Linked DNA regions of Homo sapiens: region 2 is linked to region 1. Evidence: fine-mapped expression QTL. Tissue or cell type: Th1 cells. Region 1 holds a variant in brackets; the other region holds the start of a gene. All regions are shown on one strand. Distances are from middle to middle.

What was found. PIP is the estimated chance that this variant, and not a neighbour inherited with it, causes the effect.
Region 2: LINC02145 starts here. The variant in region 1 is fine-mapped to the expression of LINC02145 in Th1 cells (Schmiedel 2018, PIP 0.95).

What each region holds. Positions count from the first base shown.
Region 1 is chr5:6,385,045-6,393,044 of GRCh38, forward strand. No RefSeq gene overlaps it. Among named protein-coding and RNA genes, the nearest start is that of MED10, 10 kb to the left of the region's middle. The variant A/AATGATG (reference allele first, on the strand shown) is at 3,115.
Region 2 is chr5:6,334,098-6,342,097 of GRCh38, forward strand. It overlaps LINC02145 (long intergenic non-protein coding RNA 2145), which reads right to left and starts at 3,195. Exons shown (of 2, transcript NR_028351.1): 1 at 3,053-3,195.

The sequences.
Region 1 (8,000 bases):
GCTGTTCCTTGGCTGGCAGAAGCATCCCTCCTCTCCACCTCCAGCTTCACGCGGTGTTGTCCCTGTGTGTGTCTCTGTGGCCAAAATTTCCCCTTTTCATGAGGACGCCAGTCGGGTTGGATTAGAGCCCACCCTGATGACTGGAGTTTTTCACTGAATTACCTCTGTGAAGATGCCATCTCCAAATCAGGTTGCGTTTGGAGGCGCTGGAGGTCAGGACTCCAACATATCTTTTTTGAGGGGATATAACTCAACTGTAACACCCCTCCTTCTCTGCTCAAGACCAGCAGCACTCGTTGTCTGTATTGTGATCGCGGGATGTTTAATTCAGGACCAGGCCATAACGAGCATAATGATGGTGTTAGTCCCTGTGATTAACCATCAGCTACAGTTTCTAAAGCACTCATCTCCCAGTTGTCCACAATGACTACTCCAGTGAAGATTGTTCCCTGCTGAAACAAAAAGCATCCCAAGCCCACTTAAACCTACATTGAGACCGGGCACGGTGGCTCACGCCTGTAATCCCAGCATTTTGGGAGTCCGAGGTAGGCAGATCACGAGGTCAAGAGATCAAGACCATCCTGGCCAACATGGTGAAACCCCCGTCTCTACTAAAAATGCAAAAATTAGCTGGGTGTGGTGGCAGGTGCCTGTAATTCCAGCTACTTAAGAGGCTGAAGCAGGAGAATCGCTTGAACCCAAGAGGCGGAGGTTGCAGTGAGCCGAGATCGCGCCACTGCACTCCAGCCTGGAGACAGAGCGAGACTCCGTCTCAAAAAAAAAAATAAATAAACAAAAAGATAAACAAACAAAAAACCTACATTGAAATTCTTCCTTTTACTCAAACAGCTAAGTAATGGCTGCTTTCCCTTTATTTAGCAACATAATACTGTTGGCTTGTTTATAAGAAACGTTTTAACATTTCAACACTCCAGTCCCCAAATGTAAATGAAATTAGGTTGGAAAATTCCAGTAAGTCAGAAGGTCGGCCTGGTAGGAAGCCGTGTGCAGAAAGCCTACAGAGCATTGCTGACTATACGTTTTGTCGCCTTGTTTTCCCTCCGAAGTCGACATGAGCTGCCCCTAGGAAATTTCCTTACTTCTGATACTTGGTGACCTTGAAATCTGGAGGCTGTTTTTTCCCTTCTTCTTTACCTTTTTTTTTTTTTCATTCACACTATTATCGCTCCATCAGCATCCAAAGCCCTTAGTGGTATCATTTGGAACATGTTTTGCCATTCATTCTAATTTATTCTAAGAGCCAGATTCAGCTTAAGTTTAAAAAAAAAAAATGCAGCTCTCCTACCCAGAGGAAGGAACAGCTGGTTTCTGCTTCTCACTTTGAAGATTTTCAGCACATTAGTAGTTCTAGCAGAAGGGAAGATTTGCAACTCTGTTGTTTGATGATGATGGTGATGATGATGACGGTGATGATGGTGATGGTCATGATCATACTGATGACAATATCTGCCATTTTGGAACATATTTTATAGATTATAGACTGTCTCATTTATTCTTCATAACCCTAAAGGAAGCTACTATAATTTGAACCATATGTGGTCAAAAGAAAGCCAAAAAAGTATCCCTAAATACAGAATTAGGAGACAGAATAATTTCATCTGATAGAAAATGCTGACATTATTTTCCCTCAAGAGCTACATTGACACATGAATGTTCAAATAAATTAGGTTTCCCGTTCATTCTATTAGATTCACATACCAATGAGAGTGCCTGACTTGTGCAATAAAAAAATAGAAATTGTATCTTTTTTTACACTAACAAGCATTGAGAAGCCGTAAGATTTCTCTTCTCTTCTGTTTTCCTTTCTATGCAATATTTGCAGCAATGTGCAGCTCTACCTGGAATTCTGTGTGATGTATGTGATCAAATTTTTAAAAGCAAAAAGATGAGATTACACTAATACAGACTGGCATGTGATCCAATCAGCAAATGGAAGTATGCAGTTGGCTTTCACTATCAGCTTTGTTTTTTTGTTGTTGTTGTTGTTGTTTTGTTGTTTTTTTTTTTTTACAAATTGTCACAAGCTCAAAAGAGAGGGCAGGACAGCATTACAGAAATAGGGATAAGGTAAGACATCTAACTCCTTAGCAGATTATACACACAAGCATAGAAATACAAACTTTTCTAGGCTGCATAGCAACTTCACCCTCCTGGGTCTTTCGGCACACGGTGTAAGCCCTGTTATCTCATAGCGTTTTGTAAAAATTAATGACTTTCAGTTGAAGTCTAAGTTTGTCTTAAACACTCCAAAGAGAAATGAGCTATGCTCAATTTCTCTTCTCACATATGCTCTTCTCATTGTGGATGACCCAGAAAACAAAGTCTTACCTTGCAGAAAATCGTGGTGCACGCAGGCCTGGAACACCTGCTCCGGTTCTGATCAAGAAAGACAGATAACCAGGAGACTGTACAGCAGAAAGCATCTGAAAAAAGCAAAAAGAAAGCGCTTTTTCAGAAAACTAAGTAAGAATATATGAAAATTCTTCATTATGGAGGATGGAAGCTCAGAGGAGACAGGACCAACATCTGCACAACTTTGAACAAATACCTGGCTATTAATACGCAAGACAAGAGAACTGGGCTCACCTCCTTCACTTTCTAGAAGGTGGCTGTAGTTTCGTTAGTCCACGTCCTCTGAGGAGCAGATCCCAGGATGGGATTAAACAAGAACTTTCTTAGAAGAAATACATGTGACAGAAAAAGGGAACCAGCATGGCTGGAAGAACCATCAGAACAAAATGCAGGTCTGATCCCAAAAGAAGGGAGGGAGAGAGGGAGGGAAGGAAGGAGGGAGGGAGGGAGGAAACAAAGGGAGTCTAGAAGCATCTTAGACTGTGGTACAGTCCTAAGGAGAGTTTGGTAAGACCACTGAGAAGCCCCCAAACCAAAATCGCTCACCAGCAGAGTCCCCAGGAATGGACAAACCTTAGCCTTCCTGCATCACTCACTCAGTCATTGGCTGAGCAGCCCATGGAGGCAAAAAGTGCAATAGATTTCAAAGGAGAGCATTAGGGCCCTTGGTTAATTCTGCCCTTACCATCAGATATCTGAAAGATGCATTCTTGTGGGTGCCACATTAGGATAAGCAACAGT[A/AATGATG]ATGATGATGATGATGATGATGATGATGATGATGATGATGCCATTTATTGACAACCTATCCAAAGTCAAGGATTGTACTAGGTATTTTACATATATTAAATATAATTATCAAAAACAATCCTCCCTAGGCTGGGTATGATTGCTCCCCATTTTCTCATGAAGAAATTGAAACTTGGGTAAATATTTTGCCAAGAAAGGGTGTAGAGTTGAGTATCTGATCCTTCAGGCATCATATTCTTACCACAGCAAACAAATGAGAGAATTTTTGCTTCTGCAATAAGAAATAGAGTTCGCTGAATTTATTAAGCTAAAAAGTTGAGTGTTTGGTGGGTTTTTTTGGGGGGGGGGTTGTTTTTACAATATAAATTTTTGTTTACAATATAAATAAATGCAGCATTCATTCTACTTAATTCATAAATGACAATGTTGGAAACTAGAGGGCCGGGCGCGGTGGCTCACGCCTGTAATCCCAGCACTTTGGGAGGCCGAGGCGGGCGGATCACGAGGTCAGGAGATCGAGACCATCCCGGCTAAAAAACGGTGAAACCCCGTCTCTACTAAAAAAATACAAAAAATTAGCCGGGCGTAGTGGCGGGCGCCTGTAGTCCCAGCTACTTGGGAGGCTGAGGCAGGAGAATGGCGTGAACCCGGGAGGCGGAGCTTGCAGTGAGCCGAGATCCCGCCACTGCACTCCAGCCTGGGCGACAGAGCGAGACTCCGTCTCAAAAAAAAAAAAAAAAAAAAAAAGAAACTAGAGCCATTGTACTTTCCCACCAAGGAGCTCATGACCACACTGAGCCCTCAGTGACCCCAAATGGCATTTCTTATGTCCCCCTGGCTGTCTAAAGTGGAGCTCAGGTATGGCCAGGAAGGGACGCAGCCCCAGTACTTCTTTGGTATATGACTTTGGCCCATTTCTAGAATTGTCTTGGTCTTCAGTGAGATGGAGCAGGGACTCCTCCTAGGGGCCTGCAGGTCACCCCCTGCCCAGTGAAGAAATAAAGAAAACTCTTAAGTTCCTTCAGGAAAAATTCCAGGCACCTAGCTCACACTGAAAAATAACTGAATAAACAAAAAGATAATAGTAGCTTAAAACAGTAGCCAAAAAAGTTAGTCAAGAGATATGTTATTCCCTATAAAAACTGAAAATAACACCTTAACATATGTCCCTGAGTTATTTTTCAAAAACCTGAACCCCCACCAAACAGATTTGCTAACACATAGACCTCAAATTAAGGGAAACTAAAAACTAAACTCTGGTCACTGTTCTTTGTTCTAAATTTCTTCCTAAGGGGCCTGGGAACGTCACACCCACAAGTTAGAGCTATCAGTTTGGTGCAAAAGTAATTGCAGGTTTTTTTTTTTTTTTTTTTTGCTGTTACTTTCAGTGGCAAAACGTGCAATTTTGCACCAACCTAATAACATTGTTTTCTGCTGATCCCACATTTTTAGACAAAGCTTTGCCTCCTTAGCCAATCACAGATCAGAAATCTTTAAATCCACCTATAACCTGTGGGCCCCCAACTTCCAGTTGTCCTACGTTTTTAGGTCAAACCAACGTATAGTCTCCATATTTGAATTTATGACTTTACTTGTAACCTCTGCCTCCACGTTGGTAAAAACCCTCACCTATGAGCCATCTGGGAGTTGGGTCTTGAACATGGGATGCCTGATTTTCCTTGCTTGGGGCCCTACATAAACGCCTCACTTTCTCTTGCTACTATCCCAACATCAGTCTTTGACTTCGCTGCACCCAGTGAACAGATCCCTGCTGGATTCACTTACATCAGATTTCTCCTCCTGGAAATAGAAGAAATGTGCCTATTGATGTGTGGAGCATCTCGCATGGCACCTGGAATGTAGAAGGCATTTGGTAAACGTGGCTTCCTTCTATCAGTTTCTACCCAAAATGTGCAAAGCCAAGCTTTCCTTTTTGTGCTGTATACTGGCTCCTTCTTCCAAAAATGTATTTGATGATGTCATTCCTCAACCTAAAACCTCCTGACATCACCCCGCTGTCTACACCAGGGATGTTAAAATCCTCTCTCTGCATAGCCCCATCCCCATGACCATGTACTCACTCTATTACCCCAATTCTCTGGGTGAGGCAGGAGGAGAGGAGTGGGTGCATGTGCCCCTGGCAGAGGGAAAGGATTCTCGGAGGGGTGAGACAAGTAGTGTGAAAAGAGTCGACCTCCAGGAAGCTGCTCTGCAGCCCTCATTTCTCCTTTGAGAATCGCTGGTCCTCAGAACAAGTTCTAAATCCTTACCACCTGATCTGATACCACCTTCCCACTGACCAGTGCCCTACAGCCTCATGGGACCCTCACCAATCCCGCCTCTTTGCCTTTGCTGGTTTCTTTTCTCTGCTTTAAAGTCTTCTTCCATACCTTCTGCTTTACTTGGGGAAATCTGAAATAAATGTCAGCATGTTGGTGAAGCTTTTGCTTACTGCCTCAGGCAGAATTAATAGCTTCCTGGTCAGCTCTGACACATCTGGGCCCTGTTCCCTCCTCAGAGGTAGAGAATCTGCTAGAGGCTGAGAACCGTCTCCACCTTTAGACAGAATGCGTTTAGTGGTTACTGCCTGCATCCCAATGAAACCTGCTCTGCCCTTCTGCCATAGAAATGGAATTGAAGCCAGACCCATTGCTACCCACTGTCTGTGTTTCCCGTTGGTATGGTTTGGCTGTGTCTTCCCACCATTCTCATCTTGGATTGTAGTTCCCATAATCCCCACGTGTCATGAGAGGGACTCGGTGGGAGGTAATTGAATCATGGGGGCAGTTTTCCCCATGCTATTCTCATGATGGTAAGTTCTCATGAGATCTGATGGTTTTATAAGGGGCTTCCCCCATCACTCGATTCTCATTCTTCTCTCTCCTGCTGTCTTGTGAAGAAGGATGTATTTGTGTCCCCTTCTGCCATGATTATAAGTTTCCCAAGGCCTCCCCAGACCTGTGGAACTGCGAGTCAATTAAACCTCTTTCCCTTATAAATTGCCCAGTCTCAGGTATGTCCTTATAGCAGTGTGAGAACAGACTAACACACCCAGGCTTCCCTGAAGTGAGCTGTGGCCTTTGCACTAAGGGATGGGAGCAGGAATGATGGGTATCTGCTCGGGGTGGGAACATGAGGCATCAGGTGCATCTTCTTCAGGCTGTCCCTGATGTGCTGGTGATTGGTCCCACCAGGCAGGTGACAGTACCCCAGAGCAGTGGAACACTCTGAGATAATAGAAGTGTTTTGAGATCTGTGCTGTCCAACACGCGAGCCACTAGACACTTGAGCTATGGCTAGTGCAACTAGGAACTGAAATTTCAATTGTCTTTAAATGTATTTAAATTAATTAAAATTAAAATAGTCACATGTCACCAGCGGCAACTGTATCAGCCAGTAGAGCCCCTGAGGATGGAGGAGCAATGGTTTGGAAGGAACATGGATCTTAGAATGCCCAGTGGAGCAGAGATTCTCCACCTAAATGGATTACTTATCTCAGAACAGTTGAGTGAGAGAAAAACAAGGCAATGTTTTAGGACAGTTAGGAAGATAGTATCAATAGTATGACATAATGGGTATATCAGGGACTTGGGGCTCACCTTTTGAGTTCAAATCCTAGCCCTACCACTTAATAACTGTATGGCCTTGGGCAAATGACTTCATTTCCGTGTGCCCCAGAATTCTCCTCACTGCACTGGGGACACTGAGTCCACGTATCACCTGGGTTTGTTGTGAGAATCAAATGAAGTAATAAATGTAAAACACTTAGAATATGGCATCCCCATTTGTTAGCTACTGTGATGACATTTGAGGTCTCTGTTACAGCATCTTAGCTTTGCACGAATGCACCTGGCTTTGCATCACGGCTCCCACATCTACCACTCGGGTGCCATTTGTTTTCTCAGGTTCTTGGGGGTGATGCGAGTGAAGTACTGAGTGCTGTGTCTGGCCCCCATCAAGCACTCAATGTTGGTAGTCACCCTTATATAAAGTGTCATGTTGTCATATCAGTATCTGTTTGGATGTCTCCCTTGGAGGTGTCTCTAGGATAGGGACTGTCATTTCTCTTTTTGTTCTTCATTGATTAGCACAGTGAAGGTACTCGGTACATGGTTACTGAATGATTGGCTGATTGCATAAATAACTCTTCTAGTGTTAGTTTACCTGAAAACCCAATACTGTACCTATTGAGGCTTCTGAGGTGTCCCCTGGCCATCAAATCCCTATGGTACTCTAACAGCAGCATGGCCAAACAAAGGCATTCTGTCCCTGCTGCCCAGATCCTTCCTCACCCTTTACCTTTGCAACACTGAGCGGAACGGCTCTTCACGGGGATGGCCACTCACCCAGGCATCATTAGGAAAGGTGAGGGGGTGTTTTTCGGTGTCACAACACCTGGATAACTGTGTTCTCCAGCTTCCTCTTGCTGCTGTAGCAAATTACTGCAAATGCAGTGGCTTAAACAACACACACTCAGTCCATAAATTCTGAAGGTGAGAACTCTGAAGTGAGTGTCATGGGACTAAAATCAAGCTGTTTGCAAAGCTGCACTCCTTCTGGGGGCTGCGGGGAGAATTGGCTTCCTGCCTTTCCCAGCTTCTGGGAGCTGCTGCATTCCTTGGCTCCCGGCCCCTCCTCCATCCACAAAGCTAGAAATCCCATCACTCTAGCCTCTCCTTCTGTCCTCACATCTCTCTCTCTCTCTCTGACTTTGCCTCTCCTGCCTTCCCCTTGCTTTCTAAGGGTCCTTGGCATGTTGTGTTACATTGTGCCCACCTGCATAATCCAAAATAACCTCCTGATGTGGTTTGGCTATGGCCCTACCCAAATCTCATGTCAAATTTTAACCCCCATATGTTAAGGGAAGAACCTGGTATGAAGTGATT
Region 2 (8,000 bases), 51 kb before region 1:
TTTGGCAAATGACAAGTGCTCCAAGGGGACCCGTGATACATTCTATCTAGGTCAGGGGTGGGCAAACCATTCCCCATGGGCCAAATGTGGCCACTTCCACTCACTGACCCATCTTCTGTGGCTGCTTTCACATTTCAATAGCAGAGCTGAGTAGCTGCAACAGGACCGCATGGCTGGCAAATATTTACTCTCTGGCCCCTTCCAGGAAAAGTGGCCAGCTCCTACTCTAGAGACCAGACTTCTAAGAAAAAAGTGAATCTTCAGGATGCAGATTTTCAGTAGCATACATGGGAGGACTTGAGAAAGAAAGGAACAGGCATGGAGATACTGAAGCCCCCTCTTCACAATGGTGAGTGACAGCTCATAGTCTCAGGAGTAATTGGTTGATAGAGGCAGACTCTAAGGCAATGAGATAGAAGGAAGAATATTTTTGATGAAGGGGCAGATGGAGGAACCTTTCCTAGTGTAGGAGAATCCCTCAGCAGAAGAGAAGCAGCGCCCATACCTGCATGGGGTGGAAAGAAAGGAGCAGGAGCCCCCAACAGCAACTAGGAGAACCACAGAGAAGCCAAAGAGAAGCTAAGAACTTGATCTTGTCTTGAATTTCTGTAGCATCTGAGACACTAGAGTTCAGTCCTGCATTAAGCTCAGGGTTTTCCAAACCAGTCAGTCCACACGGCCTTTCCACCTGGTAGCTGCCATTTCCATCCAGGCCCTGGAATTCATGAGGTTACCCTTTGGAGAATGCTGCATTCAACCTACCCACTCCCTTTACAGATTGGACAAACCCCCTTGACACCGTACCTCCGTGTGAACATCACACAGCAATTCATGGAAAGCGTGCACCCATTAGCAGGATGGGAGAGGCTGGAAACCAGCCCTGGCACATTCAAGATGCCCTCCTATGGGAGGAAGAATTGCAACAGCATTTTGTGCTCTGAATGCCCAGTCTATAGGAAGATGAACAGAATGTGCACTAAATATTTAGGCATCTGAGCTGTGGTAGCTCATGGCAGGAAGCCACGCTCACCTCCCAGGACCTGATTCTGCCATAATACACTGTCCCAGAACCACTATAGATCACCTCACCACTGGCTGAGGAAGACAAAGACAGGAGCTGAGTGTAGATGGGCAGCAGGCTCATCCTTGTCTCCCTTCTGCTGGCTGATGCACACCTTGTCCAGCTTGCTTAAGACACATGCTCCAACACCTGTCATTGTCAGGCATTAGATTCGTGGCCATGCCTGCTGTGCCCACCAAGCTGCCAGCACCACATGGCTGCTGCTCACTGGTGTGCGGTGTGTGCCCAGCCTGAGGGCCAGGCGAGCTCAGGACACAGACCTCCCAGTGCCAGCACATAGGAAGGCCCTGGTAGCTGGCCAGGGAGGCCTAAGCTCACTTCAGTCATCAGACACGAAGTTCCATTCTCTAAGGATATCATCTGGGAGGAGGTGAAGCCTTTCTGTCTTGAAGGTTGGGTCTACCTCCAGGTGTGAAGGAAGGACATTTCATATACAGGGGAAAGAGGTATTGGCCAAGAAATATGGAGCCCAGATTCAAAGGGGGACAGAGACCCCATCTCTTGATGGAAGGAGGGTCAAGGAATTTTAGAAACTTATTTTCCCCAAACTTCTAGAGTTGTTGACACCAGTTGTTTATTTGTCACATTGCTTATTTATTCACTTACTTATTCTTTAAAAGTTATTTTAAGCATAATTAAAGATATAATTCATCTCAGACTATTATCACGAGATTATTGTCTTATTATTACCTTCCACACTCCAAAGCCACCACCCTTGGATGACATAAATATCCAATGACTATTTATCAGAACCATAGGCATTTTTATCTACCTGTCACCTTGCAGGGTCAACATTTACAAACACGTCGTTATTACAGGAACACAGAATAAGATAATGATCTTATTATCAAGACCACAGATAATAATCGTGGCTCGTTGAAGCCCTTTGAACCCAACAGCTGTGGGCCCATCTGGAGCTAGTGGCCTTACTTCTCTAGATCAGATTTGCACACTTTGAAAACTGCAGCAGTTAGGAAGCTGCAGCATCCCACAGGGGGAAGCAGCTCAACAGCCAGAGCTGGGCTGAGAAGCGGGTATCTGGAAGCTTGCTCCTTAATGCCTCCTGAGGAAGCGCTGGGCACACACCTGGCACAGCCCACATGCAAGAGTTAGCACCACCCGCACACATAGTGCTCAGCTGTTCCTTTGGCAGCACTGTTGTTAGCAATGTGTGACCGCATTGGGAGGGGGTCTGAGTACCATGGAGGTGACTGAGATGCTCTGTACCTCTGTTACTTAGCACAGTGCAGGGCAGGAAGCAGGAAACTCAACAGATGTCTATTCAATGATTGATGGGCAGCTGCCAAGCAACTTCCAGAGTAGGGGGTCCCATGATGCAGATCCCTCCTCCCCACCCACTCCATGTCAGCCTTATTTCAGGCCTCACAACATCCCACTTGAAATATTAACTGAGCTCTTGGCCTCAGTCATCGTGTTCTCCTGTCACCACTGCACCATCTCAAAGTGGCCCTTCCTACCCCACTAGGCTTCCCACTGCCCCGCACACAGCCAAAGCCCTGCCCTCACAGCCTGGCCCTCCAGATGTCTGCAGCCTGGGCCCCATCTGTCTTCAGACTTCGCTTCCCATAAAGTTTCCTCATCTGGCTTTTGGTTTTGTTTCACAAATAAGCCACACACACATGCACACACAAAGAGGTACATGCACACACAAAGAGGTACATGCACACATGTGCAAACATCTGTGACCACAGACCCAGATGCCAGCACACACGTGCACACACACTCATGCTTCCAGGTGCAAATACACATACATACACACACACACACACACACACACCAGCTCCATACTTTAAACCTCTTTCCCCTGTATATGAAATGTCCTTCCTTCACACCTGGAGGTAGACCCAACCTTCAAGACAGAAAGGCTCCACCTCCTCCCAGATGATCTTCTTCCCAAGTTGCAATTGAGTTCTCCCTCCCCATTTCTCTATACAGCGGCAACAGACTCACCATCACGATACCATTGCCGTCTTCTCTCAATGCAGGTGCCGTCCATGCTGTGAGTCCCTGGAGAGCAGCAGGGATACTTTTTACAGCTTTTTCGATGCTCACTTACGGCCCCCAGCAGAGAGCACCTCAGCAGGTGCTCCAAGAACGATGTTGCCTTGGAAAGGTAGCGAGGCCCTGAAACACAGAGAATAAGGGCAAAGTCTGGGCTGCTCTCAGAGCCTCAGGGCCCTGCCACCCCAAAGTCCTAGGACAGGGAGCGTGTCCTCTAACTTTTCTCTCTCCCTGCACTTTATCTCCACCAGGAATTCTCAACCTTTTTTGTTCTAATAGAGCTCTCTTCAACCGCCTGAAAAAGTTCCTAATCCTTTTATAAAATATTGTCTTAAAATGCACATAATAGGCTGGGCACAGTGGCTCCTGCCTGTAATCCCAACACTATGGGAAGCCGAGGCAGGTGGATCACTTGATGTCAGGAATTCGAGACCAGCCTGGCCAATATGGTGAAACCCCGTCTCTACTAAAAATACAAAAATAAGCCAGGCATGGTGGTGCACGCCTGTAATCCCAGCTACTCAGGAGGCTGAGGCAAGGAGAATCACTTGAACCAGGGAGGCGGAGGTTGCAGTGAGCGGAGATCATGCCATTGAACTCCAGCCTGGGCAACAGAGTGAGACTCCATCTCAAAAAAAAAAAAAAAAGAAATGCACAAAATAAATATTACAAAGGGCCTGAGTGATGCTGAAATCCAGCTCTGCGTTCACACTTGAGTTGGGGGATGGCAGGTTCCCCAGCACCGTGTGCTCCCAGGTTCCCAGCAAATGTGAGCTCACTCTCCCTGGAGCCCTTGCCCTGGGTCCTGATCACCAGCCCCCTCTGGTTGATCTTCCCTCAGGTAGGAAGTAGCCCTGAGGAGGGGGAGCACAGAGGAGTTGTGGGCAGGGGTGCAGAAGGAGAAAATATGTTGAGGACAACAGCATCAGAGGCCAAAGGCAGACTCTGGCTGCTGGTCTGCACAGACCACCATCTATGGGTTGCAGAATCTGGGTGGACACGTAAGGAGAGGAGGGAAAAGAGAGAGAAAAAAAAAACTGTCACAGGCAAGCACAAAGAGTAGCTGCCCTCAATTAGGGCTAGTAAAGAATTGTTCCCACTGCACGGGGTTTTCCAACTGCAATCTTTGGGCTTGTGAAGCATTTTCTCTGCATCTGTTGTTGATGCCATTAAGTAGAATGAGTCACTGTATATATTAAGCACTAAGACCAGCAGCGACATAAGTCTATGAATTCAATGATCATGCCAGCTTTAAGTAGAAAAGGAGCTTTTTTTTTTTTATTAAACCAGTGGCAAAGCAGAGGAAATCAAGTAATTTTTACATTATAAGATTTTTGCTTTTTTTTATACTGTGTCTATTTCCTTTTAATGACAGTTATCAAAAGTCACTTTTGGGAAAAGGCTTTGAAATTGAATAGAAAAATCTCATGCATTTACTTTTCCTGTTTTTCTGAAATTCAAATAAGATGTGAGCGACAGGCGCTGAGTGCTCCAGCCCCCATGCTCAGCAATCGCAAGCTTTCTTCAGACCTCTCTTTGCAAGCTCGGGAGGAGACCAGAGAGGTTCCTTAGGAGGATCCCTGGCTGGAATCTAGGCCAGGAAGCCAACAGCAAAATGTGTTTGGGGTGAGCATCTGTGTTTGGGGCCTTCTGGCATGGTAACACTCTGACCTGGGGTGTTCGACATCACTTGTGCTCTCAGCACAGCTTCCAGAACAAGCCAATGGCCCCAACAAAGGACAAAGGGTCCAGAACCATGTGACCAGAAAAGGAAGACAGCCAGGTGTATTTGACAGCTCCCAGAATGACCTGGCCAGACACTCAGAAGGCCACGGAAGCTTCGCTCAGGCATGCTGCCAGTGTGTGTTTATGTCCCAAACCCTCACACAGCATTTGCTACCTGACTGGCCTTTGGCAAAGGGCTTTAGAGATGTTCCCCCAAGTCCCACATGGCACAGAGGGCAGGTGCGCATGCTGTGACAATTTCACAGGTGAGGAAAGGGAGGCCCAGGGAGCTTACAGAGCTCATGAGAGGTGCAGCCAGGATGTGAGCCCAGCCAGCTGGCCCCACAGCCTGTGCCCATGTGTGACAGGTGCCCCTCTGCCCCTTTCGTGGGGTCACATTGCCTAGTTGCATCAGAAACTTAACCCAACCTTACAGCTTGGTGTGTGGGTGGGCAGTGGAGGGTGGTGCAGGCGGCATCTCCTTACCTCTGATGCAGCATCCACCAGAAAAGCTGCAGAGAGTGTGGAAGGCAGAACAGTACTTCCAAAAAAAAACTAAAAACATCCAAGTCCTGATCTCCAGACCTGTGCCTATGTTAGGTAACGTGGCAAGGCGACACTGAGGTTGCAGATGGAATCAGCAGGCCTTGAAAGAGGGCACTTGTCCTGGATGGTCTTCATGTCCTCAGTGTAATCACAAAACTCCTCAAAAGTGAAAAGAGGGTCAGGGTCAGAGGAAGATATGACTATGGAGAAAGGCACAGAGAAACGCACACTGCCAGCTCTGAAGACAGAAGGGTCCACAAGCCACTAGCCGAGGAAAGCAGGAGCCTCTAGAAGCTGGGAAAGGCAAGGACCAGATATTCCCCTGGAGCTACAGAAGGGACCCGCCCTATCGACACCTCCACTTTAACCCAGGGGGACAGTGCCGGGCTTCCAACCTCAGGACTGTAAAACAATAAAATTGTGAGCCGGTGTGGTGGTTCATGCCTGTAATCCCAGCACTTTGGGAGGCCAAGGCAGGTGGATTACTTGAGTTCAGGGGTCTGAAACCAGCCTGTGCAACACAGTGAAACCCTTGTCTCTACAAAAAGTACAAAAATCAGACGTGTGTGGTGGCGTATGCCTGTGGTCCCGGCTACTCAAGGGGCTGAGGTGGGAGGATTGCTTGAGCCCAGGAAGTAGAGGCTGTAATAAGCCAAGATATCACTACTACACTCCAGCCTGCGCAACAGAGCAAGACCCTGTCTAAAAAAAATAAATAAATGAATAAATTTTTAAAAATAAAATTGTATTGTTAAGCTGCTAGTAAGTGGATCAGTCAGTATTCAAGCCAGGTGGTGTTAAGCATTGTGTCCCTGGGATGAGTCATCATTCATAATCATTGATGAAAGTTTTAAATGTTAAGTATAACTTGGAATGATTCTACTGTATTGTTAATAACTTACAGTTATCATGAATCACTAGGCCAAAATATGCTATTGTTAGGAGAAAAAATTTCACCTCTACCACTTGGGTCCCATGCTTGGGGGCCTGCAAATTAACTGAAGATAGATTAACAGGAGAAAAGGCAAGGTTTATTTACATGTGCACGTGGGAGTTGCTCAGCCATAAGTAACTTGCAGAATAATGTGAAGGTTTATATGAGGGGACAGTGCATGTCCTTGCACCTTCACTTTGGACTTGACCACATGATTTGTTCCAAGCAATGGGATGCACATAAAGTGACAGTGTGCCAGATACAAGCAGAGGCTTTAAAAGGCATCATTTGCTTCTGCTGTCCTTCCTGACTTCTACCTTGCACCCTGAGGAAAGCATGCCCCAGGGTGTAACTTCTCTGCCAGCCTGGGTCCTGGGTGAGAAGAAGGGTGGCCCAAAGGAGTCCAGCCAAGAGGAGCAGCTTAGAAGCTGCAGCCAGCCTCAGACCCCAGAGTGAGAAACAAACATTTGCAGTTGCAAGCTACAGAGATGTCTGGACTACCTGTTACTGCGGCAGAAGCTAACTACCACAAGAACACGTAGATTTTTGGCCTAAGCAACAGTGAGGATGATGGTGCAACTTGCTAATTTGAGTTGCAGCAAGTGGGGTGGGAAGGGGGAAATTAAGATTTCATTTTAGAATACACTTAGCAAATAGCAACACCTCCCATGCTATGAAGGATAAGATACAAGACACAACTTTCATACTCCTTGCATTTGGAGAATAATACAATTATTTGTATTTGGAATTTAATATCCCAAATAAACATTCATATCCTTTACACTCAACCTGTTCATTGTCAAACATTTTGTTCCCTGAAATTGCTTAATTCACATTTATTCAAAAAGAAAGTGCATTTGGAGTTAAAACTAGTTTTACCCAAGAGGGTCTAAAGAGCTTAAAAATAGAAATGGGATTATGCCAGGATGAAACCCATTAACAACTCAGCTGAGTGAGGTCAGTGGGGGAGTGAGCCTAGGAGCTCCAAGTAGGGAAGAGAGCCCCCATCATCATACCCGGATCATCAGGAGAAATGACATCCACATGGATGGCACACTCTAAAGACAGCCAAGGGAAACTTTGCCAAAAAAGCAGAAGATTTTTTTTTCTTTTTCATCAAGATAATGCCACTTTAACCAAGAAAAGGAACAGATTTTGTTTGAAAACCCTAACTGGATATTTGGTTATTAATAATGTTATATCATATTAATACTTTTATATCATTTTCATTCACCATCTACCATATTTCCCATGTAATGATATAATCTTCATAACTAGAATTTTAATGGCTGCCCAATGAATAGCTATATCATAATGTTGGGGGTTTTTTGTTTGTTTGTTTTGTTTTGTTTTTTCAGATGGAGTCTCACTCTTTCACCCCAGCTGGAGTGCAGTGGCACAGTCTTGACTCACTGCAACCTCCACTCCTGAGGTTCAAGCAATTCCCCTTCCTCAGCCACTTAAGTAGCTGGGATTACAGGCACCCACCACCAAGCCCAACTAATTTTTGTATTTTTAGTAGAGACGGGTTTCATCATGTTGGCCAGGCTGGTCTCGAACTCCTGACCTCGTTGTCCATTCACCTCTGCCTCCCAAAGTGCTGAGATTACAGGCGTGAGCCACTGCACCTGGCCGTGTATTTTTAATTTATCTTATTTTGTAACTTAGCTTTTTCTACCAAAAAATAGGCAT